Regions from separate parts of the Homo sapiens genome. Here region 1 is linked to region 2. The links come from fine-mapping of genetic effects on gene expression. A gene starts in region 2. The other region holds a variant in brackets. All regions are shown on one strand. Distances are between the middles of the regions. Region 1 overlaps FRMPD4 (FERM and PDZ domain containing 4). Region 2 holds the start of FAM9C (family with sequence similarity 9 member C).

Region 1 (15,194 bases), 630 kb after region 2:
GAATCCCAGTCTTCCTCAAGAGATAGTTATTGTCAAAATGTATTTTAAAATAAATTTGCTCAAGTAACAGTCATAAGACATTCATGATTTGAAAAATAACTTTCTAGAATTTTTAATGGTTTAGTATATATGGAAAATCACCTGCTGTTGAAAGCATACAAAATTACCTATACAAAAGATATCATCAAATCCTCATGAGAGTCCAACTGCATTGCCGAAGAGTATTTACATACACAATTCTCATCACTCTAATGGGAATTACGTGGCTAACACCCTCATGCATCAAAACAAAATAAAGTCCAGTAGAATTTAAGAATAGTAAAGACAGAGTAAAACAACCACACTAAGCAATCAAGACTGTATTGAGTAACAGCACATCAAGGTTTCTCAAGACCTTCTCACTCTAGAAATTTAGGACTGGATCATTCTTTCTTGCGGGGAGTTGCCGCATGCATTGTAGGATGTTTAGCAACATCTCTGGCCTCAACCCACAGGATGTCAGTAGCCCCTACCCACCCTCAGCTGTGACAACCAAAATGTCTCCAGACATTGCCAAGTGTCTCAAAATACCCCCGGTTGAGAACCAATGCATGAGACATAAGAAATATACCAGCTGTTATCTTATCAGGGAATTCTCTTAGATTCCAATGTTAATCTCTATAAAACAAGTTTACTTTGTATCTATAATGTAATGCTTGCAGATTCCCTCAATAGTGACAGGGAACAAGGTTTAGTAGGCCCAGAGCTCTAGGAAAAACAAGAGACAGCACCCTTTTACACATAATTTTTGTTTTGTTTCCACTGACAATGAAGAGAAGGGAACAAGAAATACAACTCTGGTTGGCTGGCAATTTCTGATAACTTTCAAAATTGTTCTGACAAGCAGATAGAAGAACATGATGGAACACAAAGCAAAAAGACTAAACAGGAGGAAGGTGGCACTTCTTTGAGAAATGTGGCCTAACAAAATAAAGGCACAGAAAAAAAATTAAGCACGAGTATAAGCTCAGTAGGTATGTCTGTCTTGTGAAGAAGGCAACACTCTACTTACTTATTTTGTCTTCCTGAATCATGTCAGGAAAAGTGACTAATTCGGTACAAATAATTAAAGCTGTTTAGGAATATTTTTTAAAGAAGGGTTTTTCATATTCAACCTACAGAAAATATCCCTTGGGGGAAAAAAAACTGAATTACTGAGGGATTTAGAGTAAGGCTCGTCTTTGACAAAGCAAACGCATTATAGAAGTAGCATTGCCTTTGCCCCAGTACACAAGATTCTGAAATTATAATCTTTATTTGTAATTCATGTGCCACTGGTGAACAGGGATGCTCAGAAAACTTTCAGATTATTAAAAAATGTTGAAAGCTGTCATATATTTTCATGATGTGGTAAATGGCATAATTATTTCCCAAATGGAGAGACCGGAGCATTTGGGAGATACACGGTCAGTGGTTGCATAGGCAGTAAGTCTAAGTTGAAGTCTGAACTTCAGATAGGCCTTGAACCTCGCTAATCAGAATGTGGTCCCTTGACCAACAGAAAGCAGAAGCCCGGGTCCCACCCTCGATCTATCTGATCAGAGTCTGTATTTTAACAAGATCCCCAGGTCACAATTATGCTCATTAAAGTTTGATAAGCACTGCTCTAGAGATTTCAGTTTTACCATTTAAGATCATATTTTATAGACTCTTTTGTGCCAAGAGAAATATTTTTTGAAAAAGTTCTTTCTAGAGCTTCTTGAGAAATATGAAAAAAGTCTTAAAATGAAGTCCTACTATTCAAGGAATAGCATATTATATACAAAAAGTGACAACAGAAAATGAAATCAATAGAACTAGAATTACAGTGACTAAGTAAAGCCTTCATTGCAGATGTTCTTCAAAGGAAGGGTGTCTTTAGCTGGATAGTTAACATGGGGCAGGAAAAATCAATCTGAAAAGAAATGACAAGGGTCGTATGGCAAGCTCAAAGTAGAACTACTCTATGACCGGTAACCATACCCAAGATAGATACTGCCCATCATTTCTTCACAATGACAAGTTTCGGTCCTTTTGTGCAAATGTACAAAATGCCATGCTACTAGTAACAAGTAATTAAAAACCCGAGATGGCCCCTTAAACTCAAAAGGGCATGATATGTTTTATTTTGAAAGCTTCTTGTTCTTTTCTGTTTTTTTTGTTCCTTTTTTCTTTTCTTGTTTTATACTTAACAGTATAAGACAACATGGTGGTATTTGTTAGTATCTGCTGACAAGCCTAAGCCATCCAGTAGTGTGTGATTTGAGATTATTGGGCACAGAAAGCTTTATTGGGCTTTGTCAGCAGTCCCCACATGCTAACATCATTGCATGAAGTTTATCTAATTTCAAAATGAGTAAAAGTTCAATGCATAAGGTTAAAGAGCATCAGTAACTAGCAGGCAATTAGCTCCATAAATGAAAAACAATGTTATGCAATTGAAAGACAACTGTACAAATCTTTCAAAAGTACAATAACAATAAAGTCAGCCACTGAATTGCAGAGAAAGGAATTTCAGTTACATTGATGAGGTTATTTTTCCCTTGCAAACCTTTCTGCACCCCCACCCTCACTTGGGCAACAATAATACAGTAACAGGAAATATATCAAAAAGGTGGAAGCTTAGAAGCTTAAAGCTCATAATCCCCACAGTGGCAGCCAAAAGCATAATTAAGGAGAAGCACTCATTTGTTTTCCTTCCCTTTAAAACCTAATCTCCTATTTTTCCAAGACCTTTGGGAGGAACTACGATTTAGGGTCAAGTTTTGAACAATGTTTGATTACTGCCAACTGGACCCCATGACCTTATTCAGAATGAAATCATGTACCAACAGATTTCGGGAGTGGGAAATTTTTGTTTTTTATTTTTTATTTATTTATTTATTTATTTTAGACGGCGTCTCACTCTCTCACCCAGGCTGGCGTGTAGTGGCGCGATCTTGGTTCGGCTCACTGCAACAACACTTCAGGAGCCGGAATTTTTAAGAGGTGTTTTGCTCTTCCAAAGCCAGAAAATAATCCTTTCACACAAGGACATCAGGAGCACAAGGTTATAGCCTCTAGACTTTGCTCTTGGAAACCTACTGAGTTTCCACAGGCAGGATATGAAATACCCAGCTGTCAAGAAAACCCTTTCCCCTCAAATTCTCAGCTCAGTTTGAACAAACATGACATATGCGGTCTACTGCCCTTCTCTCCCTCTAGTAAACATGAGCCTCCACAAAAAAGTCACATCTTTCCCATTTTTGGACCTCTTCTGCCTTTTAACAGGTGCAAGCATGAAGAACCAAAAAAAACCTGTGTGTTGTTCAAGTCTCTTGGCAGTTAATCCCCTTCATCTATAACAGATTAAACCAAAAAGCAAGAGGGTTACTTTCAGAGTGGAATTGACTAACTATTTCCCACTTTTATAAAAATGTATTTTCACATTTGTTTCTCCTATATGTTTCACTTCTTACAAAAATGAAGACCGCTTTCTAGCTCACTGTGGAATCCTGGAGAGCTTTCCTCATCCTCTGTAATCATTCTGAAAGCCATTACTTATCCAGTTTCTCCTGGGTACCAGGCACCGAGCTGGGTACCTTATTTGCATTATCTCATTGAATTCTTCAAACAGCCTTTCAAACGATCCTAGTTTATTCATCTGAAAATTTCCCCAATTTTTCAGATGAATAAACTAGGATTGTTTGAACAGCTATTTGAAATAATACCTATGTTCCCCATTTTTCAGATGAATAGGATTGAATAAAGTGAATGTAATAAGAGGAAGACGCTCCCTATTCAGGTTTCAAACCCCAAATATCAAAGCCTACAGCCTGTCTCTAGCGTCCTACACGATATCTGTTTCTAGAAGATGGCTAATAAGCATTTGTTGAACCCAACTGACTTGTAGACCATGGTCGTCTTTGCCAGATAATGAGCTGAGTCCTTCAAGGGAAATGTACCAGATAAGAGACACAGGAGGTGGTGATCATGTGCCCTTTTCTTTTCAAAAGAAGCACGCCCCAAAGCCATACTCACTTATAATTCATGATTAAACACATTAAATGATAATACCGGAAAGGAAATGTTTTACATACCAAAAATGTTTTACATACCAAAATGTTTTACACCCTGTTTTCAAGGATTCAAACATGTTAGACTTTTTTACTTCCTAAGTGTTTGTGGAAATGAAGGTCTGGTGAGAGAAGGGCAAGAGGGAAGAACATAATAAAGGGAGTAAGAATGGACAGCAAGAAGATATCCAAGGCAAGAACCGGAACAGCTTTGGGACACTGCCTAGGTTTACATCTCACTGGTCTCCTTATGTGATCAACTAGAAATTCAGCCCCTGCCCCCCCAGCTTTTTTTTTTTTTTTTTTTTCTTTGAGATAGGGTCTCTGTCTGTCACCCAGGCTGAAGTATAGTGGCCCAGTCATAGCTCACTGCAGCTTGGAACTCCCAGAGGCTCAAGCAATCCTCCCACCTCAGCCTCCTGGGGTAGCTGGGACCACAGGCACACACCACCATGCTCAGCTAATTTTTTATACTTTGTGTAGAGACGGGGTCTTCCTTTGTTGTCCAGTCTGGTCTCAAACTCCTGGACTCAAGCGATCCTCCTGCCTTGACCTCCCAAAGTGCTGGGATTACAGGCTTAAACCTCCACATCAGGCCTTAAATTAAGCCTTTTTATGAAAAAGATAGAAAAAGCCTTTTACCTCCATTGCAAATATTTTAGTTTTTGAGACGTGAGCATGGAAGCCTAACCTACCAATATTATTTGATTAGAACATATGTGTTGTGGTAACTTCTGTAGTTACATTGTCTCACAGATGTGACAAAACAGTTTTCTAAAAAGGATTATTTTGTCATTAGGGTTTTTATAAGTAAAGGTCACATTTGACATAAAAAAATGGAATTACTTTTGGTGACATACTTCTTAGGACAATAACTTTTGATCAGATGTCAATTCCTCACACCCCACCCTCCTCATATATAGATAGAAGACTTAACCTGGTCAATGTGTTGCCAACTCCCATTGCCAATCAGGACGCAGATAGTCTTTCATGCAGGCAGTAGGTGAAATTATATCCATGTCTTCGAACACCTATAAATGCTATATTTTTGTAAGCACTGAAATCACTGCCTTTCTGTGCTCAAGCCACCTGTGATTGTTTGACAAAGGAAAATCAGTAAATCTGCTCACCTTTAAAGTGAAAGATAAATTGAAAAGAAATACGAATTTCCTCATTCGACAAATAGGTACGGAGAGATTGTGGTTAAGTGATGGAGCTGGAAAAGGATGCTGTGAGGATTCTATGACATGTAAGAGAGACAAGGCTGCTGCCCTTCTGAAGGTCACATCAAACATGCGGTTACATGTGTGGATTGACAAACGCCATCACAGAGCACACATAGGGTGTTACAGAAGGCTAGATGTGTGTCAGAAATCTAAACTTGAATATCAACGACCGGTGTTGAGTTAGTCAGCACTGCCTGTGTTCAGGGTAAGAAGGTGTAAATGGGGATGGGGCAGGGATGGTGGCCCAGGATGAAGGATGAAGGATCAGCATGTGTGAGGGGCTGAAGGGGAGAGCCCATGGCAGCATGGAAGCCCTTGGAGCCAGCACAGAATGCCGAGGGAGGGCAGGTGATGAGAGATGCAGCAAGTGAGGTGAGAGGTGGAGGGGACAAGTGTTTCAGGGCCTTGAAGAAATAGTGAATTGATGAGCTCTGTGCCTTGGAAGGATGACCCTGGTGGCACAGTGGAAAACAGGCTAGAAAAGAGCCAGTTAGGAGACTACTGCCATTAGTAGAGACAATGGAGGCCCGGGTGGGACAGTGTTAGAAGTTAGAGAACAGCAGATTGTTTTGAGGATTCAGGACA[C/G]TGATGACACAGAGCTTGGAGATTGCTTGGATATTGTGAAAGACAGTGAGGGTTTAAGACAAAGGAAAGAGTCAAGAATGGTTTCCAAACTTCTGGTATGGGCAACTAGACAGAGTGTGGGCCATGAGAATAGAGATGAAGGAGCAGGCGTGATGGTGACATGATAAGTTCAGGGCGTGTTAAATTATAGGTGCTGGTGGAATAGGCAGGTAGAGGTGTCCCAGCAAGCTGCTCAGTATTTAGGTATGAAGATTGGCAGAAAGATCTGGGCTGAACACAGCTGTCACCAGCCTAAAGACGGTAACGGAAAACAAAGAAGCATGGAGTGTGGGAGGAGGTGAGGGCCCCACAGGTCGTTAACCTTTAAGGTTAGGCAGAGGAAGAAAAGCCCATGAAGGAGATAAAGGAGGAGGAGCCAGGGAGGTAGGAAGAACACCAGTAGTGTACATGGTGTTCCTCTCTGGACTCCTGTAAGTCAGAGGAAAAGCATTTCCAGAAGAACGGTCAAGAACAGTGTGAATGATTCCCAGAAGTCTAGTAAGGACTTGCCCTTGAATTTGGTGTCCTTGGAGCAAATAGGTTCAGTGAACTGATATGGGCAGAAGCCAGATTTGACTGGGTTGGGGAGTTTTAGACCAGCACTTCTCAACCATTTCACCCTCAGGACTCCTTTCCACTCTGAAACATTTTTGAGGACCCCCGAAGAGTTTTTGTGCATGTTGCTTACATCTACCGATATCTAATATACTAGAAAGTAAAACTGATAAATTATTGAAATATTTTTTATGTATTTAAAAACAACAATTCTATTTCATAAGTCATATCTTTTTATAAAACATAACCATATTTTCCAAAACAAAAACATTTGGTGAGAAGAACAGCATCTTTTTACAATTTTGCAGATAGATCTCTTTAATACATTGCTCGACAGATGACAGTGGGTTTTTTCTATCGGCTTCTGGATTCAATCTGTTGCAGTACTATAGGAGACAGGATGCTTTGTCCGAGACAGGAAAAACAACTTATCTTCCACCCTCACAAGGGGGAGGAGGTGATGTAGTATGTGGATATGAGTAAATCAATAGGTTTGGGGGCAGGAGGTTGAGGGACTTTTCATCCAGTAGATTCTACTTTCCCTGCAAGATAGTATCATGATACAGGAGGAGGGAGGGGTCAGCAATTTTAAAAGCATAGGGAATATTAGAGCATAAATAATCAAGTCATTCTTTCTTATTAAGAAATCCAATGAATAAAGTCTCCTTGGATAAACATAACCCATGACATGAAATACCAAGAAAGGTATCTGGGGTGTTAGAAAATTGTGAGGCCTTCTGGGAAACTGAAATTCATGAAGAATTATTTAAGAAGAAGAAACAAAAATAAATGTAACATCTTTGGCCCTTCTGGAGAAAAGCTGAAGAAATGGTGGCTGTTTTCCGCTATTTATAAGCTAGCAACAAGGGAATTATCATAGGATGCAGCAAGAAAGTTCAGTTACATGATTATGTCTGGGTTCTGGGTTCAGCAGCAGTTTTCTTCTATGCTTATCTCAACCTTGTCACATAGAAACAAATTTTATTTACACTTAGAAATACTGATGGATGTGGCCAGGTGCGGTGACTCACGACTGTAATCCCAGTACTTTGGGAGGCTGAGGCGGACGGATCACGAGGTCGGGAGTTCGAGACCAGCCTGACCAACATGGTGAAACCCCATCTCTACTAAAAATACAAAAATTAGCCAGGCATTGGTGGCACGCGCCTGTAATCCCAGCTACTCAGGAGGCTGAGGCAGGAGAACTGCTTGAACCCAGGAGGTGGAGGTTGCAGTGAGCCAAGATTGCACCACTGCACTCCAGCCTGGGCAACAGAGCGAGACTCTATCTCAAAAAAAGAAAAAAAAAAAAAAAAAAGAAAGAAACACTGATGGATGCTCAAATCCCTGAGTCATCGGCTGGGCCTAGAATATAGCTCAGTGTCACCCAATTTCTGCTCTTTCATGCACTAGCCAGTCCACAAGCTGTCTCTATGGTGATGGCAAGGGAATTATAGTCAATGTAAGTGGACAGCCATACAGCCATACTGAGGGGCTGTAAAATCATCCTCTCAAACTTTTTTGAAGTGTTTCTGAATTTTAGAACACGTTATTCCAGCAAGGGTTCTGAACCTTTTCGGTGTCACGAGCCCCATGAGTCTGGTGAAGCCTGTAGACCCCTTCTCAGAACAATGTTTTTGTTGTTGTTGTTGTTTGTTTTTTTTTTTTTTTTTTTGAGACAGAGTCTTGCTCTGTCGCCCAGGCTGGAGTGCAGTGGCACGAACTTGGCTCACTGCAAGCTCTGCCTCCTGGGTTCATGCCATTCTCCTGCCTCAGCCTCCTGAGTAGCTGGGACTACAGGCGCCCACCACCACGCCCGGCTAAGTAGAGACGGGGTTTCACCGTGTTAGCCAGGATGGTCTCGATCTCCTGACCTCGTGATCCGCCCGCCTCGGCCTCCCAAAGTGCTGGGATTACAGGCTTGAGCCACCGTGCCTGGCCAGAACAATGTTTTTAAATGAATAAAATGAATAAAAGCACATAGAATTACAAAGGAAATGAATTACACTGATAATAGATCATCAAGATAATAAAAAAAACTGATAATAAAGTTATCAAATTTTTAAACTAATTTTTTTTTTTTTTTTTTGAGATGAAGTCTTGCTCTTGTCCCCCAGGTTGGAGTATGATGGCGCAATCTTGGCTCACTGCAACCTCCACCTCCTGGGTTCAAGTGATTCTCCTGCCTTGGCCCCCCAAGTAGCTGGGATTACAGGTGCCTGCCACCATACCCGGCTAATTTTTGTACTTTTAGTAGAGATGGGGTTTCACCATGTTGGCCAGGCTGGTCTAGAACTCCTGACCGCAGGTGATCCACTCCCCTCAGCCTCCCAAAGTGCTGGGATTACAGGCGTGAGCTACCGCACCGGGCCAAAACTAAATTTATTATATAGAAATATGTGTGCTTCCTTGGTTAATATATTAAATAGAAATATCTAGCAACATTTTGAAGTGATACTAGTGTAACTGTGTCCAGTATGGTGGTATCTGATGGCAATGCAAAAAGTAGCTTATAGGCTGATGGGATGGCAGATGTATAAAGAGATAAATGAATCGACTGAAGAAATATTAGAGTATGCACTCATGCTATAGAACACATAAGAGTCAGACACGCCCTCCCGGAAGAGGTCTGAGCCGAGCCTTTAAATCTCAAAGGTATTATCCTTATCTATAAATTAAATTGAATTTTTTCAATTAAGTAGGAATAGTCTCTGGATGACTAAGGAAAGAGATTAAGCAAAGATGAGAGAATACCTTCTAAAATTTTTTTTCTGGTGTTCCCAAAATAAAGGATTTTAAAGAAAGACAGACAAAATGTATGGTGTGACTTCCTTTGTAAAGTGGCTAAAGGAAAGGTACAACCAGACAAAGACACAGAGGAAGCATTTTTTGATTTTTAACATGCTAGATACCTTCAAAAATGTTTTTCCTTGCCCACAAGGGAAACAAATCAGCTCTCATCATATGTCCCATCTCTAAAGAGGCAAAAGGCTAAATGAAGGACAGTCATAAGACACAAGTTGAAATATCCTTCGACCACACGACTCCTGTTTTTGAAAATCACAACTTGGAATTGAGTCTTATGAAAATTTATCTCAGAGAAAATGCCACAACTATTAAGAGGAAAAGATCTTACATAAATCGAAAAAGAACGGATTATTAATGCCACAAATTAGAGAGTAATAGAACTGTGTTTAAGAAGTAGCTCCCTGCCTTCAAAGGCTACACCATACAAGTTGTTAATTAACAAAGTAACAATGGATTCCCACAACTGCTGTGGAAGTAGAAACTGATGGCCAGGAAGCCCAGGTGAGGGCATGCTCATTAGGAAATCTGCCATGCCCCTCTAAGAACAAACTTTCCTTTAAGGAATTTAAGGAGGAGAGAAAGCTGCTTTGTGGTCCTTGCTCAATCACTATTTATATCCAAAAAAAGAAAGAAAGAAAAAAGAAGGAAGGAGAAAGGGAAGAAAGGAGGAGGAAGGGCGGAAGAGGTAGAAAGGGAGGAGAAAAAGAAACATAAAATAGAGAAAGAGAAGGAAGGAAAGAGGGAGGGAGGGAAGGAAAGGAAACATTCAGAGCAAAATAGATGCTCACTAAATGTTAGCATTTCCTTAACAGCCTGCTTTTGGCATTGCATCATTTTGCAGGAGACGGACTAGTTCTTTCACTTTAAAATTATCTTATGTGCTGCCCAAAGGTCTCATATTGTCATGAAGAATTCTTGATAATTAGCAAATTTTCTGAAAGTTCAGCATCAGCTGATAATCGCAAATAATACAAATATACCATGGCCTTGAAATAATCAGAATCACCGTAAACAGCAGTGTTAGAAACATATTTCAAAGTGAAAGAATACACTATTCTCAGGAGATAATCACCAACATTCTTCCAAATCCTGATCAATGGAGGCAGCATTTTGCTACATGAGCAATAAACCAGGAAGACTCTGGATATATCATGTATAATGCTGGGCATTATAATCAAACACAACACAGGAAATAATCCCAAGTCTTTAATAATATTAATAATCATATTTAAATAGCAATTGGGTGTTAGTCATACAATTTTAGTATTGGTGAGAGCCTTGTGAATCAATCTCATCCCCCCTATTATTGTTGTCAAAACTAAAACAGTAAAGGAGATAGAAAAACCTAAGGGGGTGTTGGAAGATGAATTCTGGTGCAAAATCCTTTAATCATATTTTTTCAAATATATCAATCAGATTGCTTTCCTCACACTAAGAACTAAAGAAATGAGATTTTTTTTCCAACTGGGGAGGAGAGGATGGATGGAGGAGGTAAGGGTTGCAGGGCTCAGGACTATCTTTTTGAAAACAACATATATTGCCCAGCAATACTGCTTTTCTGATGCAACTTTGGCCACCTCCAGAGATGCTCAGTAGGGCTGTACTTACAACGAAGACCCTCTTAGTCTCAGGATTTATGTGCCTCCACGATGATTCCAAAGGGAGACAAATCAACTAAGAATCAATAATGTTAAATTAATCTTGGGTAAGCCAAGAGTTACATATGTCATCTAGAATGGCTTACATGGAACACCAGGACCCAAATGCAATTCCCTCAACACCCTCCTTATCTTGGTAGTGCTCACCACCTAGATAAAATGTCAGCAGCAGCCTGAACTCTAGACAATTTCCTTCATGGTGTTATCTAAAGGACCACCAAAAAGATGATCAGCTCCCATCCTTCCACAAAAGAAAAACTCTACCACTTAGTATTGAAGCTTTCAATGCAGTGTAGTGATCACGTGTAAAAGTAGAACTATGGAGTCAGACAGAATTGTGTTTGAAAAAGTCTCTCTTGTAACCAACTTGGGAAAATGACTTAATCTCTCTCTGTAGTTGGGGGAAAGATGTAGTGATATGTAAAGCACCACCATAAGGTTCAGAACATAATGAGTTCTCAATAAATGTCAGGTCCTCTCTCTTCTACTGAAGTTGCTCTTTCATTATTTTTGGGCTCCCTCTTCTCTAAAATCCCAACCCATGATGAAGGCTTTCAAGGCCTGTATATACTAATGGCTCTCCGAAACCTAAGATAAGCAGAACCTTGGGTTCCAGAATTCCTTAGTCCTGTCCGTAATAGAAGAATATAAAAATACGTCTCAAGCATCTGCATACTGACACAAAGCATTTTCAGGATGATATCATTGTTGAATTGAGACTTAATTAGTTTTGTGTGAACTTTGGGATCAAATAACATAACAAAATAAATTAACTGAGGCTAAGAAACAACTTTTTCACTTCATAAAAAGCTTTTTAAGTCACTCCAATGAGTCTTTGATTCAAATATAATGAAATTTCATGTTGAATCAATGATAGACCTTTTGAACTGTAATCTGCCAGAAAGTAGACAACTCAAAAATTGAAAATGGGCAGATCAAAGTTACACTGATAGGAATCTGTTAATGAACCATAGTGTGTTGTGTGGATAGGATTAGTGAGGACCTATCTGATTTACTGCATGAGGATATTAATGTGAAAGGTAGAAGCAATGCATATTAAATGATCACTAAGTGCTTCTGAAAGAATGCTTTGTAGCAATAACATTTAAATTCCTTTCATTTAGCCAAGATATATAAAACTGTGGAAATCCCTATTTATAGTCACACAGACCAACACTGGTTTAACAGGGAAGGCCACCATCTCATAACAGTAAATCCATAGCCCTATGGGCTTTAATTGAAAAAAATTATCACCTAGACACTAAATGAATTTGAAAGAAATAGAAGACTGAAATATTGCCTTTTAGATTGCTGACAATTCTGGAGGGTTGTTGGCTGGAAGGGCTGAACATCCCCAAATTGGCACCAGATTTTAAAACAACCTTCCAAGTGGTTTAATTGGTAGGCACACCAGGTCCTCAAACACAAGAATTTGCACATTTAAAGGCTGCCCCACAATGTTCCAGGAACCTAGTCATGAATGCAATAGTCAGTATAACACGTTCTCTTTGTACATTGGACCTGACATTCTTGTTTTAGAAAAGTAACTGAATCTATAGACCACTGGGCCAGCTGTTCTCCATCAGAGTGCACTCCTTCACTTAGCTCCTGTAGCATTTACTTGGTGTAGCTAGAATGCAGGCTCTCAAACCAGACTCACAACGTGGGTTTGAACACTTCTGCCTCTTCCTTTGCCTTTGCATGTTTCAATTTCCTTGTCTGCAAAAATAAATGTAATGATCATATCTAACTCACGGGGTTGATGTTAATATTTGTCTTAGTTTGGATTTCCCTAGAAGGAGACCCCAATACAAAGATTCCTGTGCAAGGGTAAGGAAACTATGCTGGGAAGAGAAAACAAACAGTCAATAAAGAATGGATTATCCAGCCAGCTACCATACTGGGTGACTGGAGCTTAATCCTGCCAGGAAATTCTGGGAATAGTATAAAACTCACATGTCTGAAATATCCCATCTGAGGAGCAAAGGAACTGGGATATCTATATACCGACTCATGTCAATCATTTTTAAAGTGCTCCCAGACAAAAGCATACCGGCTTTAAACAGTTTCAGAAAAATCCCTCCGAGATGCAGAGACTGGCTGCTGGAAGTCATCTAGCATACAATGATGTGGTGTAGCCCTAGAAATGTGGCCAGGGCTGCACAAATTAATGTCCATAAAGTGCATGGCACATACAGTGCCATAAATGTGTGTTTTTTTTTTTTACTATGACTATCAGTATTATTATTTTTACTACCCATGGAGGCATTGGCCAATGCTATTAGATATTTATGTCTATGTCCTGCTACCAGGACCCTTGTTGATGTTCCCGATACAAAAGCTGTTCTATAACATTTGATGCTCATACTCAAGATGATTCAGATTCAACCAGAAAGGCTCAGACTGAGAAATCAGCAGTTATTTGCTTTTGTACACTATGTGCCTATGAGATGAAGTGCAAACCACCACCAACCACAAACACAAATTCCTCTCCCAGGAACCACTGAGTCTTTACTCTCAGAAAAATCCATGCCTCTACCTTTGCTGCCATTATCAGGCATGGCCCTAAGAATCTCACAACAGGCTGTGGCTGAGTTTATTTAATCTGCATGCTATAGAGGTGTTTTATCCAGAAGTGATTATCTTAGGAAGTCAGTTAAGAAGTACTAGACATCACTCCTAAAAGTATCCTGATGCTTGCCAGAATATGGATTAAGAGTTTCCCAAAGGAGATAAGCAAACTCTAAAAATGTCCTCTTCTCAAGCTGCTGCTTTTATGAAATTCCTCATTGGCTACCAAGGGGGAACCTCAGATACTGATCATCTGGAAGCAGCAATCACTTATTGAGGCCACAGAAGCAAGATGACGTCAAATCCATGTATGGAGCATTTGTTTTGTGTAAGATAATTCAGACAATGGGCAATGGGGTAGGTGGTTGTGTGGGAGAAGTAACTAAGGTTTAGAAGACAGATCTGCTCAAGGAATCTGTAGACTCACTAGGGAAAAGTGAATTAGTCACATTAAATACCAATTATTATAGATTTGTGCTTACTTTTGAATCACACATAATGGTAAGAGCAAAATGCTAAAATTTGTCACAAACCATTATGCATTGAATCATCACATGATTAGGCTGAAGTGGCCTGTGAATCAGGCTGCACAGGAATTGAGGCTTTCAAAAGGATATGATGAAGAGACTCCTAGTTGATTACGCAGCAGACATTCTCTCCTTCTTCCAGGTTTTTTCCTAGGGGACAAACTTGCCCAAGTAAAAGACTGTAGTTACCAGGCAGCCTCCCTTCAAGTCAGTGGTATCCAGTGAGTTGTAGACCCTTGGCCTTTTTGCCCTTTTTGACTTCCTTCATTTCTGCCTAGATATGATGTCAGGAGCTTACTAGGTCATCTTGGACCATGCAGTGACACTGACGATGGAAGCCATGTGCTAAGGATGCAATAACAGAGGGCAGAAATAGCTCAGGTCTCGGATGGACTATGGAGCCACCATATTGCATCCTGAGTACCTACCTCTGCATTCGTCTTTTACAAGATGCACATTTCCCACGCTTTAGCATCTTTAACAACAGGATGTCTTATAATCAATGGTGTTTTAAATTGCTCTGCACAAAGCAACAGTTTGTCCTGCACAAGTGTGAACAATGTACTCATTGCTATTTATATGGTCCTCACCTCAACTGAATTACGTCTAGTGCTGATACTACAAATGCTTAGCTTAAATCCCATTTAAATTGTCTTCCAAAAGATTACATCATGATTCAATATTGAAATGGAAAGTTACTGGTACACAGAAAAGCGTGGAAACAGAGCAGTGGGGTGTGAATTGCATATCAGCAAAGCAAATATTCATTGCTGAAGAAGTGAACACATTTTCATATCTGCTAGCAAAGGGACAAATGCTTTCGGGACCTAAGACAGGAAAATAGTAGCCATGTGCTACTAAGATACTTACAAAAGCGTGGCTTATCTCAGGCTAAGCAAGAAAAGTCCCAGAGTCAAAACTTGAAGAGTGGGTGTTGGGAGTTTGGAAGAAAATCTCAGAGACAATAGTGGGAACTCCTAGAGCTCCTAAGAATGCTGCATCACCAATGTTTTTGATGGCACAGTTGTTTGAACAGTTGTATGAACAACTGCTATGTGAACAAAAGTGGACATCAGTGATTCTGAGTCAAAAAGGCACTCAGAAGGGGTTCTGAATGCGATGAAGTTTTAGGAATACCTTAACAATTCTATT
Region 2 (15,194 bases):
TGTACTAAAAATACAAAAAATTAGCCGGGTGTACTGGCGTGCACCTGTCGTCCCAGCTACTCGGAAGATTGAGGCATGAGAATCGCTTGAACTCGGGAGGCGGAGGTTGCAGTAAGCCAAAACAGCACCACTACACTCCAGCCTGGGCCACAGAGTGAGATTCTGTCTCAAAAATGAAATACAATACAATAAAATAAAATCTCATTAGGGACCTGTTAATGACTACCTATATCACTAAACTGTTGAGGGATATTTAGCAAGACATGAGGGGTGTGATCACCATAATGACTGCAGGTGCTCCATTTCAGCTCAAGGACTTTCAGGTGATATCACCAGGTTTCAGAGTGAGCTGGCCCTCTCATTGTAGTACTGGGGTTACACACCTTTTACCTTAAGTTACAACAACTAGAGAGCTCTGTCTTCCCCTTGAGGCCACCTGTGTGACCTCACACCCCAGATCTGTTCTCAGAGGTGTACAGCTCTTGATAGTCAACCTAGACAGGAATGATCAGGCCTAAGAAAATGCTTCTCTTACAGGAGATTCAGGAGTGACAGATTATAGAAATGCCATTACCGTAAATAACGCATCTTGGCTCGAAGGCAAGTAGCACTTCAAATTCTCTATGGATGCCTCTTGAATTTAAAAATCAGACAATGTGGTCACCATATCCAAATGTTTTTTAAAGAAAACCTTTAAGGTACTCCAGGCCTAAAGCCCTCACATTCTGAGGAGCCCCTTCAGAGACTCCTGCCTTCTTCAAGGGTCTAATTTTCAATTGTTGTGACTGAAGGCCAAAACCATTCATGTCTAGAATGGCTGCATGGGTCTTGACCCAAAGTTCAGATCAGTGAACCAATTTCATAGTTTCTATAGCAGTCGAATTCACACAAAGTGATCTTGGGAGCCCCTCTAGTCAGCGAGTTTTCTAACCGTTCCATAGATGCACCCGCCCCCGCCCCACCCCCGACATTCTGCTCTGAAAGATGTAATCACAATCTACTGTGACCCTCTGAGTTGGCTTTGCAAGCTCATCCCAGAAAAAAGCTATCCCTCTTGGACATTACTTGGAAGAATTTTCAACCATGCCAGTGCCAAAGTTGTGAGCAGGTGGCACTGACATGCTGAGTATTCTGGGAGTCGGCTTTGGCCTTGAAGGAAGATTACAGGGGCCACATGGGTCCTATGCCACAATTTAAAACGGAGTGTGGGGGATGTGTCAGGATGAACAGGGAAGAATAGGGTGGGGAAAGTCAATTATAGCACCAGTAAAAGGGACCTTTTTATGTTCAAATGAGGTTAATGGGAGGAATTTTGATGCCAAGATATTTTTAAATATTCATTGAAAAATCAGTACGAATCTCTTTTTTTCCCCAAAAACTATTGTTCCACCAACTTTGTGGGTAGCCAATTACAATCTTAAAAAATGCCCAAGTATTGCAAATCTTTTCTGGTTTCTCTATAATTAGTTGCTAGGATCAACAAAGAAGAACTTAGGAAGCTTAATTTAATTTTCAGCAGGAATCTTAATAGAATAACAACAACAAAAAAAATAACAGGGGTGGGGAGCAGAGACAACACAATAGAAAGAGTGCTTTGACCCCTCAGCATCAAACAATAAAGCAAACAAAGGCGCTTGGAGCTGGTCTGGCCCTGGCAGACAGCCATTTTTGTCTTTGAAGCTCTCAGTGATCTTGTTGAAATACATCTTCAAAAACAGGAAATTGTGTGATTTTGATTTTCTGGCAACCTCGCCCTTTCTTGTGAACTGCCAACCAGACCATGAGCTGTTAACTTTGATTTACACTAAAATAGGATGGAGGCAGAAACAAAAGTATTTCCTTCTCACTTAAATCTCAAGATTTTCAGAAGCAGTTATAAAGCTAAGTCATTTCTGCTCATTAATGTGCCCAACAAACATTGCTGAAATGAGGCCTGTATAAAGGATGGAAGTGCATTTAGCTTTAGTTTTGCTTTGCAGCTAGAATGGGGAGGAAAATTCACCTTGATGAGAATAGAAAGTGGTGACACTTTGCATGAAAGTTGTATACATAGCTCTTAAAATTCAGTGGGTGATGACGCATACACTAGGTAATTAATAATTCCGGTAGACACTTCTGCTTTGTCAGAACAAGAAAGCAAATGAACATAGAAATGTAATGGAATGTCTGTTTCTCCATCTTTATATCAAGGGAGTTGACCTAGAACAGTGGTTGACAAACTTTCTCGAAAGGGCCTGATAGTAAATATTTTTTACTTTGCTGGGCAGGCAGTTTCTGTTACAACTACTCAACTCTGCTACTGTAGTGTAAAAGCAGCCATAGACAAAAGAGAGAAAAAATAGGCATAGCTGTGTTTCAATAAAACTTTATTTACAAGCATAGGCAGCTATGTAGATTTGGCCCAGGGGTTGTAGTTTGTTGACCCCTGGTCTAGATGATTACACTTCATACTCTCTGTGAAAGCATAATTTTGAGAGACAGAAGAGAAGAAAAAACACCAGCTTGTTCTTTCTCTCTCTGTGACCACCAATTCCTTTTCCTCAACTTATATTCTAAAATGTCCTGGCCCTGGAGGGAGGAACCCTCTCTCTCCCTCTCTGCCTTTCCATCTTTTTTGTTTTGTTTTGTTTTTGAGACGGAGTTTTGTTCTTGTTGCCCAGACCGGAGTGCAATGGCACAATCTTGGCTCACTGCAACCTCCACCTCCTGGGTTCAAGCGATTCTCTTGCCCCAGCCTCCTGAGTAGCTGGGATTACAGGCACGTCCCACCATGCCTGGCTAATTTTGTATTTTTAGTAGAGACGGGGTTTCTCCGTGTTAGTCAGGCTGGTCTGGAACTCCCAATCTCAGGTGATCTGCCCGCCTTGGCCTCCCAAAGTGCTGGGATTACAGGGATGAGCCACTGCGCCCAGCCCCCGCCTTCATATCTTTTATCCACTGCAATCTGGTTTCTCCCTACATCACACTTCAGAAACTACCAGGCAAAGACCTTGGGTACCCTCGTGATGGTCAAATCTTATGGTGGCCATCCAAGCCTCAACCTTCTTCATCCCTCTGAGGTCTTTGAATTTACTGAACTCTCCACAACTCTAAAATCTCTGTCCTCTTCTGTCTCTGGACTCAACTCTCCAGCTTGTCCTCCTGTCTCTTCAGTCTGTAGTGCTGGCTCCTTTTCCTTTATCTCTGCCAGGTTCAGCTTTAGCCCTTTCCAGTCCCAATCTCCGTGAGAGCCATTGACCATCTCCTCTCTCATGGTATTTACTTGACATTGCTAGCCTAACTGCACCTTCATCTGCCCATGTCCCTGAGCTGAGAGTCTTGGAGGCATCTTTAACCCCTCATTTTTGACCTGCAAACTGCTATGTTCCCACGTCACCAATTCCCTCACCCCTCCCCCACACCTTGAGTCAGTCCCTTGTCATCAATTGGTTGTAAAATGTCATCAGTTACCAGTCTCCCTCCACTGAAGGACCCAGATAGTCACTTAGATGATGAAACAAAGTTTTCTTAAAAAATTGAAATCGGAAGCTAATTAATAGTCAGGCGTGGTGGCTCATGCCTGTAATCCCAACAATTTGGGAGGCTGAGGCAGGGAGATCACTTGAGGTCAGGAGTTTGAGACCAGCCTGGCCAACATGGTGAAACCCTGTTTCTAATAAAAATACAAAAATTAGCCGGATGCGGTGGCACATGCCTGTAATCCCAACTACTCGGGAGGGTGAGGCATGAGAATTGCTTCAACCTGGGAGGCAGAGGTTGCAGTGAGCTAAGATCGCACCACTGCATTACAGCCTGGGCGACAGAATGACATTCTGCCTCAAAAAAAAAAAAAAAAAAAAAAAAAGGAAACTAATTAATAAAAAAGCTATTTGAAAAGAGTAGGGCAGTGGAATGTAGAGAGGTGACATCCAGGGCCACTGCATGACATTAATAAGCTATAGATGCATTTTCCTTCGTGAAGCCTTTCCTCCACTAAAAAAATAATAATTATATATATAAAATAATACATTAAAAAATTATATTTTGTGACTCTGTTAGTATAAAGATAATATAATCCATACTGAATTATATTAATATTTTCCCTTGTTATTTTTAAGAGAAATTGAAGTAATTTTGTGGTCCCTCAACTCTGTGCCTAAAGGAGAAGTCAGTCCTGTAGATATTGGTCAGATGCTGATAAAAGCACAAAAATTCTTTTTAAGAAATCTAATAATGTCAAATATTTCCCATGTTAAGCTGTTTATCTCTCTTTTAAAGAAAAATATAATGTCTACCAACAAGATTAAAAATGTTGATGTAAGTATCGGAATTATAGTTATCCATATAATATAATATTTGGTGGCACTATTAGATACCAAAATAAGGATGAGAAAATAAATATTGATATGCCCTGTTTGTGCTTTAATAATAAAGTGAAAGTCAGCTATTACTCTTTCGGTTACCACTACAGAACATATCGATCTCAAATAAAAACACTATAGATCTTCCATTCTATAAATCTCTTGAATATGTTGCATCTTATTCCGACTCATTTGATTACTTCATTGGTTCATCCAGCAAGCATTTATTAAGCACAAACCTTATGCCAGGAATTGTGCTAGGTCTGGCAATACTCTGTGTAAGTATGGTACCTTTTATTATAACTGTGACATTTACTGCTATATTAATAGGCCTATTGTTAGATCATTCATAAGTTGCCATTCCCACACAGTTGCCTCAATTATCCATGACAACAAAGATAAGCCATAAGCCATGGTTACAATAATGTGAAAGTGATTGGAACTTCACCTTAAAAGGTATTTTGTGGATCCTTAGTGGGGTGGAGGAGGGTGGGATTACAAGGAAAGGGTACTGGTATGTCTTGTTAATGATTAGGCTTGTATGGCACATCAATTCCATTCTGCAAGAGCAGGAAAGATGAACAATGTGTTAGGCTTGAGTTTCTCAAACAAGGGGTTTTGAGAAACATAGGGCATTATTAATTTTATATTAAGGCAACCTATTAAGGATCTGAGGCAACTCCTTGTCTTGGGCTTGTTGTTAAAGGTTCAAACTCTTAATTAAATGCATGACCTTGTATAATGAGTTTAGTTTTCAAATTTAGAATCTCTCTCCTCTCCCAGATTGCTGGGAGGAACATATGGCCATGTATATAATGTGCCTGGCACAAAGGGAACACTCATTGAATGTCAGCTCTTCATTTGCTGGAGCCAATCCAACATGTAACATCAACAGTTGACTCAGATGTACTCTGGGATAAATTGTTGTGCAGTTGTCTGTCTTACTCAGGGCATGGGCACAGAGTGCAAAAAGGAGATTACTCTAGCTAAGAAAGCCCTAGCTAATCAAACAGTTACCATAGACCACGGTGTGTCAATCTCAACACTGTTGGCATTGGGAGCCAGATAATTCTTTGTGGTGGGGCTGTCCTGTGCATTGTAGGATGTTTAGCAGCATCCCTGGCTTCTACCCACAAGATTCCAGTAGCACCCCCATCCCCAGCTATAAAAACCAAAAATACCTCCAGACATTGCCAACTGTCTCCTGGGTGGGGGGTAAATCGCCTCCAGTTGAGAACACCAACTTAGATGATAACCTTCAGTCCTGGAGACCTGGTAGCTTGTCCTGAGAATCAAAGGAAAGAAGGTGAGTGAAAATGAAATTACCTGGTGGCTTGTAAAGTCCAAACCCTGGAATTCTCAGTGCTGCCTGCACTTTTCTATCATCTGGGGAGATTTCACCGTCCTGAGGCCCAGGCCAAACTCCAACACAGTTAATCAGAAACTTAGTGGGTAGGATGGAGGCAGCAGTGTGTTTTGAAATTTCCTGAGTGATTCCAGGAGACGCCAGGGTGGGGCCCCTCTGCTCTAAGCTGAGATGTAATTCTCAGGACTGGGTGGTAGACTTTGCCATTTGATGAGAGGGTCTGAGCCTATGTCTCTACATGTATGCACAGCATTAATTCACGTATAGCAAACACAGCATTTGCTGACGGCCCACCATGTGCCAGCCATGGCGCTGAGTGCTGGAGAAGCAAAGTTGACAAAGACCTGCCCTTGAAGGAATTATAATCTAATTGGAGAGAGTCTTGAAAAGCCCACTGAGAAGGGCCCTGATAGAGTTTGCACAGAGAAGATCATAGGTGAGGGTATTTGTGCAGAGTACATCAGATAAGCCTTTCTGAAAGACATGAATGTTTTCATTCATTCTTAAACAGCTGGAGCCTAGAATTTGCTGCTTCATTCGAGTATAAACTTTTGCTAAGAGTCTAAGAATTGGAGAAAAGGCTGAAATGTGAATGAACATGAAGCCCTCAAACGTCTGGAGGATTATCAGCAGAGAAACTTCCATCTCCTGTGCTACCAGCCCTGTCTGATAAATGAGCAATTTGATTGGCTATTAGAGCGTAAATCACTAATTCAGGCTACAGAGTATGGATGTATACAGTCTTTAACCCAGTGATCACATCTTAGATTTCTAGATGTTTTCAAAATGAACAATTGTTGTTGCCATTTGATGAGAGGGTCTGAGCCTATGTCTCTACATGTATGCACAGCATACATGTTGTTTTCCAACATTTTATTATTAGAAATTTCAAATACACAGAAAAGTTGAAAGAATTTCATGGAAAACATTCATGTTCCCATCACCTAGATTCTATCATTGACATCTGGCCATACTGTTGTTGCTTATCACATATCTAGCCATCTGTTTGTCCCTCTGTCTGTCTATGAATCCAAGCAGTGCATTTCTTTCAGTTAGTTCTTAATGACAGCAATAGAAGAGTGAGGGCTGCTTTGAAAATTGGTGTTATTTCTACATTTGTTATGAAGCATTATCCTTACTTGTCAGTCAATTCACATAGGGTGGAGTAGGGTGTTGGGGGTAGGAGGGGGTTACACCTCCAGTTATTAGAAACCAATTCTCTAAATTAAAGTACTTATTCTAATAACTCTTGAGAAATCTCCTTTAAATTTGCTTAAACATTTCCTGTGGTCTTTGTAGATAACCTCTAGTGGGAAAAAAAAAAAATTGAAGTGACCATGTTTGCCCTAAAGGCTTTGGTTAGTTCACAAAACCTGTTTCCGCAACCCAGAGTTGCTTCAAATAGACTTCCTCCCTTTACAAAGGCTTAATGATTTGTGTATTGAGTTGTTTCTTTCTGGGAGACATCTCACAAATACTCCAGTTGGGAAAAAGAGATAAATTGCTCCATCCAAAGTTTAAAAGAATTTCTTCAGGGTTTTGTAACTTGGACACTTGGTGTTCTGAAAAGAATGTCTTTGTGCCTATTTAAAATTGCAGAATCCTTTTCAGTTTGTTTCTAGGCTGTTATGCCAAAGAAGTAGCTCTGTAATCCCCATTTGTCTTCACCTGACATCAAATTCCACTTTGTGATGGAGAATTGTTCCTTGATTTGACATTCTTTTAAAGAAAAATGAGCCAGCATTGAATTCTTAGCTGAATACCAGTAGTTGGTGTATGTGTGTATGTGTTTCCAATTATAGACAGAACCTGGTATAGTACTTTCAGCTGAAATCTTTGATGAAGCATATGAAAATTACATTGATCCAGATGGGATAGAAAGCTGTAAGACTGGTTGCACAAAGCCCTCTGCAAGATTTGTCTTCTTTCTTAATGTTACACATCTTAAGCTCGAAAGAGAGAGAAACCTGAAGCAATCATGGCTTAAAATTCCCCAAGATGTCTCATTGGCTAATTTGGGTACCAAGTAGATTGTGGGGAAATGGGGACAGCTGGTGGTATTTAGTGTCAGTAATTAGGGATTCTCTTTAGGTTATAGAGAACTCTTAGATATAAAGGTGAGCTGCCTTGTCAGGGAAAGATGGCTTCCAACCCAGCTGTGGAAATAATCGGGCTGGGCACGATGGCTCAAGCCTGTAACCCCAGCACTTTAGGAGGCTGAGGCGGGCGGATCGCTTGAGCCCAGGAGTTGCAGACCAGCCTGGGCAACATAGTGAGACCTCATCTCTGCAAAAAATAAACAAAATTGGCCAGGAGCGGTGGTTCATGCCTGTAATCCTAGCACTTTGGGAGGCTGAGGCGGGCAGACTGACTGAGCTCAGGAGTTCGAGACCAGCCTGGGCAACACGGTGAAACCCTGTCTCTACTAAAATACAAAAAAAAAAAAAAAAAAATCAGCCAGGCGTGGCGGCGTGCGCCTATAGTCCCAGCTACTTGGGAGGCTGAGGCAGGAGAATTGCTTGAACCAGGGAGGCAGAGGTTGCAGGAAGCCGAGATCGTGCCACTGCACTCCAGCCTGGGGACAGAGTAAGACTCTGTCTCTAAAAATAAATAAATAAATAAAATAAAATTAGCTGGGCATGGTGGGACATGCCTGTAGTCCCAGCTACTTGGGAGGCTGTGGTGGGAGGATCCCTTGAGCGCGGGCAGTTGAGGCTACAGTGAGTAGTGATTACACCATTGCAGCCCAGCCTGGGTGACAGAGCAAGACCCTGTCAAAAAAAAAAAAAAAAAGAAAAAAGAAAAATGAAAGAAAAGAAATGACCACATCATGAGAAATCTAGACATAAAGTCTTTAACTTTGTATATCCACTGCAGAATCATGCAATGCCCAGTGTGAGGGAATGGAGTAGGATAGGAGAAAACTACCTGCCCCTGCTGGGAGTCAACAATTTTCTTAGATAAAACATAAAAGCACAATCCATTGATAAAAAGGATGCAGCTGGGCGTGTTGGAAGCACACAGGACATGGGAGGGAGCCTGGGCTCCACCCGCAGGGTGATGGCCATTCCACCCAAAGGGGCAGGAGTGGCTGGAACGAGCCTGGGGGCAAGGTCCTAGGCCCCGTTCACTTGGCCTCCATTCCTTAGGGCAGGGTCCCCTGGCACTCACCACTCCCGAGTCCTTGCTTCCTTCACCAGGATGAGGAGCTGGAATATCGTGGGGACAGAGGCCTCAGAGAGCCACCCAATGAGTCCACAGCAGCCATGGACAGTCCGTGAGGGGGAGGGTGTGCCTGCAGGGGGCGTGGCCCCATGCCGCCCGCCACCTGCATGCGCACTGGGCCGACCAATCAGCGAGGAGCGCGGGCAGCCGGGGCGGCTGCTGCTCTCGTGAGAACAGAGGACCCAGGCCCTCGGAGGAGCTTCGCGGTGCCAGCCTCTGCAGGTCCTCTGAGGGAGCAACATCAGGGCTCCCTCAGGTGAGACGCCCTCGGTGGGGATGCGGGGAAGGCGGGCCAGAGGCCCTTTGGGGAAGAGGGTGTGAAGGGCGGGGCAGCCAGGCTGATCTGTGAGGAAATGGCCCAGGCATTGTCGCCTGGGGCCTGGGTCAGGGCAGGGAGTTGGAGCTGCCTGAGTGGTCCCCAGGACCCAGGAGGGTCCCGGAGGCCTGTGCATGTGTGCAGCGTTTGGGGGGGGGTCGGGGGGTCAACGTGGGTCCGTCTTGTCTGGCTGCCCATCAGGACGGGATACTTGGGGTCACCAGGGGTCCCCTGGGCGTCCAGGCTGGCGAATGGGCAGTCCCTGCCCCTGTCAGAAACAGGTGCGTACCGGCTCATTCCCATGGAGATGGCTGGGGAGATCCTGTGTCACCCCGCGGCCCTCCCGACTCCACTGGGTCGCTGGGGAACCCAGGGGCAGGGCCAGGCTCTGTCCCAAGGGCACTGCAAGAATCCCGCAGAGGCCGCGGAATTCTGCGAGCTCTGCAGCCAGCCCCGGGGAAGCGCTGGACGGGCCAGGACAGGAGGGGATGATGGCATCTTCTCCGCGTCCCCTCCTGCTCCCACGGGAGACCCGGGGCGCCCTTGAACCTGCGATCCTGATGATTTTCATTTAACACGCCTCGTTTCCTTAGTGTCCTTAGTGTGTCTTTGCACTCACCAGGTTCAGAGGTCGCCTCTAGCTTCCCAGGCCAGTCAGCCACGGAGCCCGTGGGCAGGAAGGGCAGCAGGATGGCTGCCAAGGACCAGTTGGAGGTTCAAGTTATGGCCGCCCAGGAAATGGAGCTTGCAGGTAAACACAGCCCAAGGGGACCTAGAAGAAGGTGCACGCCCAACAGTCTGTCTGCTTTCTGGGCGGGGCGCACATGGGCAGCCCGAGGCCCCCGGCCCCTTCGTGGCTTTGGAGCTCACCGTGCATGTGCTGAGATGCCCCAGGTTTTCAAAGCAGGCTCAAGGGCCTTAGGCTTCCCGTGGGAGGCTCCCCCTCATAGCAGGGTTACAGATGCTCTCAGAGCAGCTCTTCTCCATGGATGCGGTCCTGACATCCAAGGGATCTGACCTGTGAACGTTGTTTACTGGGACTTGAACCCGAAGGGCTTCCAAAAATGCCTCCGTAAAATGGTTAGGAGCCGGCGATTCCATGTATAGCTCTGCGGTAAAGCTTTAATTGGCGGAGAGCCAAAAAAGTCTACAAATAGTACGTTTCTCTATGAAAAATGTCCACAACAGCGTCTTCCTCTAAAAAAGGTTTGTCTTTTTTATTTTAATGCAGGAAAGGATCCAGTAAGTCATGAGCATGAGGAAAGAAAACCTGTTACAGAGACAAAGGAGGGAGATGTAACTGATGAGCATGGGGAAAGAGGATCTTTTGCTGAAACAGATGAACACACGGGGTAAAGTGTTTAAGTCCCTTTTGCCTGTCAGATAAGGTCTTTTAGGAAAAGTCAGCTTTGGATCATGTCATCACTGTTATGTTCTATGCAGAACATTTCACACAAGACATTTCTTCCCAACAAACAAGGCCTTTTGTGTAGCATTATGTTAAAATTGTGTTGCAACTTTTTGTTACAGGGTTGATACCAAGGAGCTAGAAGATATTGCAGGTATGTTTTACGAGCTATTTGTGGTTTATGAAAATTGTTTTCAACCATACAACCCTTACAGTAGGTTATATGAATTAGTGGATGACAAGACTGTCTTAAATGCCTTCTTCTCATATATAGCATTTAATGTAATCTGTTTAATAATTTTTCTTACTTACTTTTTTAATTGTTGATGTGGAATGTGAGAATGCTTCTAATAATGGTGAAGCAAGAGGGGTGGCTTTTCTTTCATACACGTGGAAATTTAATTGTTTGGGGGATATTAGAGGACATTGGAGGAGAAACAGCTCTATTCGTTCCTTTCAGTGTACACACATTAAGTCATATATCAGGTTTTTTTTTAGCTTTTACTTTATGTTTGGGGGTACATGTGCAGGTTCGTTATATAGATAAATTGCGTGTCACAGGGGTTTGGTATACAGATTATTTTGTCACCCAGATTATAAGCATCGTACCTGATGGGTGGTTTTCCATCCTCACCTTCCTCCTACCCTCCAACCTCAAGTAGGCCCAGGTGTGTGTTGTTCACCTCTTCCTGTCCGTATGTACTCAGTTTTTAATATGAGTTTTTCATCTTCCTAATTTAGCTATTGTCACAACTTTCTAATTTTGTTTTCTTTAAAGTACCAGAGAAAATTGAATTCTCTAAAATGATGATTTTCTATTATTATTCCAGTAACAAGCTGTGTAGTAGAAAAGGAAAGACAACTTTTCTACCCAGTGAGAAGCATACAATTGGATCCAAAAACTCATAAACTTTATATTGCCATGTGAAATATTAGTTGCACTGTTATGGGACCATATTTTCAAAAAAGTTTGAGAAAATTTCTGTAGAGATTATGAAGACAATACTCTTATTTTTAAAAAGCTTACTTTAGTTTTCAGCTCTTCTATAGCGATAATTCATATAAGCAGTATATTTGGAAAGCTTTGCTCTGCTTGGTGGTGACAAAGTGCCGGTTTTGTCTAATACAATGAGCATTATAGATGGATACTGTATGTAAAAAAATTTGTATTATGGTGCAGCTCTTTTATGATTGCTCAAAACTATTCTCAGCAATTGATGGTAGATCTCTCATGTGAAACCATGTTTAGGAAAGCATTCCTTGCAGTATTACAGTTTTCTGAAACACTGCACTGTGGATAAAAATGTCATATAAAAAGCTCTCAGAAAATATTTCAAATGTGTTTTGAATGTATTTATCTATTTAAACCTAAATGTTTACACCCATGGACATTGCTTCTTTTATTAAAATATAGTTAATAGCATCAACTATTGATTAAAAATACTTTCTTTATTGTGTATTAAGTTATTTCTACCCTTTTGATGGTCTTATTAAATCAGATACTTTTTTGTGCTTTACATAATGAGTTGTGACAGTATTTCACGGAAACATGTCCTTTGAATTGTAGGACATTTTATAAATGTAGAAATTAAAGTCTGTGGCTGGGCACGGTTGCTCACACCTGTAATCCCAGCACTTTGGGAGGCCGAGGTGGGTGGATCACGAGGTCAGGAGATCAAGACCATCCTGGCTAACACGGTGAAACCCCGTCTCCACTAAAAATATAAAAATTAGCCGGGCGTGGTGGCGGGCGCCTGTAGTCCCAGCTACTCGGGAGGCTAAGGCAGGAGAATGGCGTGAACCCGGGAGGCGGAGGCTGCAGTGAGCCAAGATCGTGCCACAGCACTCCAGCCTGGGTGACAGAGCGAGACTCTGTCTCAAAAAAAAAAAAAAAGAAATTAAAGTCTGTGTTTGTAACCCTTTCTGCACACTTAAAAAATAGAAACTTTTAATTATTTGCTTTTTTTCATTATCTGTCAATTAAGTGATTTGCTGTTATACCAACTGAAATTGGAATACTAATACCTGAAAGGTTTTACATAAAGTAAGTAAATCTTGCTTTTTGAAATGATCTTTGCATTTTACATTTTAAATGTCCTTCTGATATTGCTGAACCATCAAGTCCCATATTGATTTTAATATATGCAAAGAAACTACTTTTCAACATGAACATTTAATGCATATTCATTTACTATCTAGCTGACATTAAAGAGCATCTTGCTGCAAAGAGAAAAAGGATTGAAAAGATTGCAAAAGCTTGCAGCGAAATAAAGAACAGAATTAAAAATGTTTTGAGAACAACACAACTAAAAAGGTATGATTGTTGGCTTTTTTGAATAATGATATTTATATCATTTCTTTGTATTCATTGGTGCAAATAATTTCCAGAACTATCCTGTACATATTGGTGTCTCTAGGGAACAACATATTTTACTTGATTGTTCCCTAAACAGGTAAGTTTCTTTAGTTTTATAACCTCAATTTAACAGAATTGAGAGATATTACCTAGAAGCCAATGAAGATGACCTCTTTTTGCCTTCCAGATAAAAAGTCTTCCTGTAAAATTAATGTTTATCCATTTCTAGAAATACGGTAGGTGAATATAAGATAAATGTCTTCAACGTTTAGTCTGTAGATTCTTAACAATATTCAATTATGTAGAAAGGGATAACCTTGTGTTGTAAATAAGTTATTTATTTTAGTTAAATTGTTTTCACTATTCCTTTTAGATCATTGTCGTGCCAAAGTGGAGAAATAGTTAAGTGAAGTATTTCTTTCGGGAAATCTTACGGGATGAATGGCTATGATATTCTTGCACCTCCTTATGAGAACGCATATGTTATTTAGTAAGAAGAAATGAAAAGTAAACTGCTCTTGGAGAAAAAGATTGTTTCTGGGAAATTTATAGTGCAGTAAACCCTCCTTTGTCTTCAGCAGGTAAAGAATGTAAGATAGCTGCTCTAGTAGTCAGTTAGGAAGGGATCCTTTCAGAATGACAGTAACTCATTTCACCTTTTCCCAAAAAGAAGATTTCAGCTGCTATTACTCCCTTGCTACTTTATAGTACAAACTATGTCAAGTCAGTTTTGGTTTGAATAGGATTAATTTTTCATCCCTCTATGACGTATGACCTTGTTACTTATTATGTGTTACAGGCAGAAACGTGATTATAGAATTTCTCTGAAGTTGCCGAATGTCCTTGAAGAGTTCATCACAGATGAGCAGAAAGATGAGGAAGGAGATGGAGAAAAGGAAGAACAAATTGTTGGTATCAGGCTTAGCTTTATGATTAACCTATTGTATCAATGTCTCAGGTAGTAATAGTTCATGCAGAAATCCAGCAAAGAAGGAAGAGAGCATGAGCCCAGAGAGGGTCGCCCATTAGTGGACTCATGGACTAGGGGAATATAATTGCCATGCAGCATTAGGGGTCCAACTGAAGTCAGCATCATAGCGATGAAGAAGTTAAAGTGAACTCAGTTGGCATATTTGTGCAAGAGCAGCTGTAGGGTTGGAATTTCCTGGGTTGGGGTGTAGCCGAGCATGTTGATAGAGGGAGAGTTGGACAGGGCATAGAGGCAGGGATGGGGTTATGATGACTGGCTGTGGAATTTCAGCTGGGGCTGAGTTACCTGAGCACATGGGGGTGGGGCATTGGGCAGTGAAAAGTGCTCCATTCAATAGGCGTCAGGTCCCTACAGACTCCTGAGCTGTAGTACTGAAGTGAGTGACCTACAGTGGCAGGAAGGTAGTGGCTGTATGTTGGGAAGATGGAGAAACAGATGAGTGCAGTGGTCAAGGGCTGCGACTCTGGAGCCCCACTGCTTGGGATCCAATTCCAGTTTGACCATTGCTAGTTCAGGAACCATGGGCATATTATTTATCTCTGTGCTAAAGTTACTTTATATACGAAAGGAGACATGGTGAGGGTACCTATTTCAGAGTTGTTTGGAGGATTAAAGGGTTCCTGTGTAACAGGTTTATTTAAATTTTTCAGGATGCGATCTGACCCATGGTTGCTGTTTATCATTGCTATTATTAATATTATGTAGATACTGCAGTCACTGGGAATGACAAAATTTAGGGGATGACTGTGAGTGCCACGTAGAGGAGAGGAGAACACTATTGTTGGAGATTAGGTCAAGGTGCAGAAAGGCAATCATTAATGGAAGGTTTATCTATGTACATATTGAAATGACCAAGATTTAACAGGTGTTTAAAATCTTAGTAAGAAAGAATGTTTCTTAGTTAATTTCTGTATAGATCTTACCTATCTGTGGTCAACAAATTATAGGAAGGGTCATCAAATACTCTTCATTTGAAATCAAGAATTAAGACGTATGTGTTGAATATGTATAAGAAAGAAAATTCTTTACTCCATGACTGATGAAAAAGGTTATTGTTTTAGCACATGAGTGGTGAACACAATTGTTTCAAATTGGTCATAAACGTTGTCTAAAAGAAAGTGTTCAGAAGTATTGATTTAAAGAGTATTTCTTTAATGCAGAATGTTTTATAAGTATTAAAATTTACCCAATT

Evidence for each region. PIP is the estimated chance that this variant, and not a neighbour inherited with it, causes the effect.
Region 1: its variant is fine-mapped to the expression of FAM9C in tibial nerve (GTEx, PIP 0.98).

The regions. Positions count from the first base shown.
Region 1 is chrX:12,410,953-12,426,146 of GRCh38, reverse strand. All of the region lies in intron 1 of FRMPD4 (FERM and PDZ domain containing 4), which reads right to left. Among named protein-coding and RNA genes, the nearest start is that of FRMPD4-AS1, 43 kb to the right of the region's middle. The variant C/G (reference allele first, on the strand shown) is at 5,885.
Region 2 is chrX:13,038,533-13,053,726 of GRCh38, reverse strand. It overlaps FAM9C (family with sequence similarity 9 member C), which reads left to right and starts at 9,107. Exons shown (of 8, transcript NM_174901.6): 1 at 9,107-9,187; 2 at 9,870-9,998; 3 at 10,479-10,599; 4 at 10,778-10,809; 5 at 12,855-12,969; 6 at 13,811-13,919. The coding sequence starts at 9,938. LOC105373133 (a long non-coding RNA gene) reads right to left here and starts at 8,994. Exons shown (of 4, transcript NR_171577.1): 1 at 8,878-8,994; 2 at 5,522-5,625.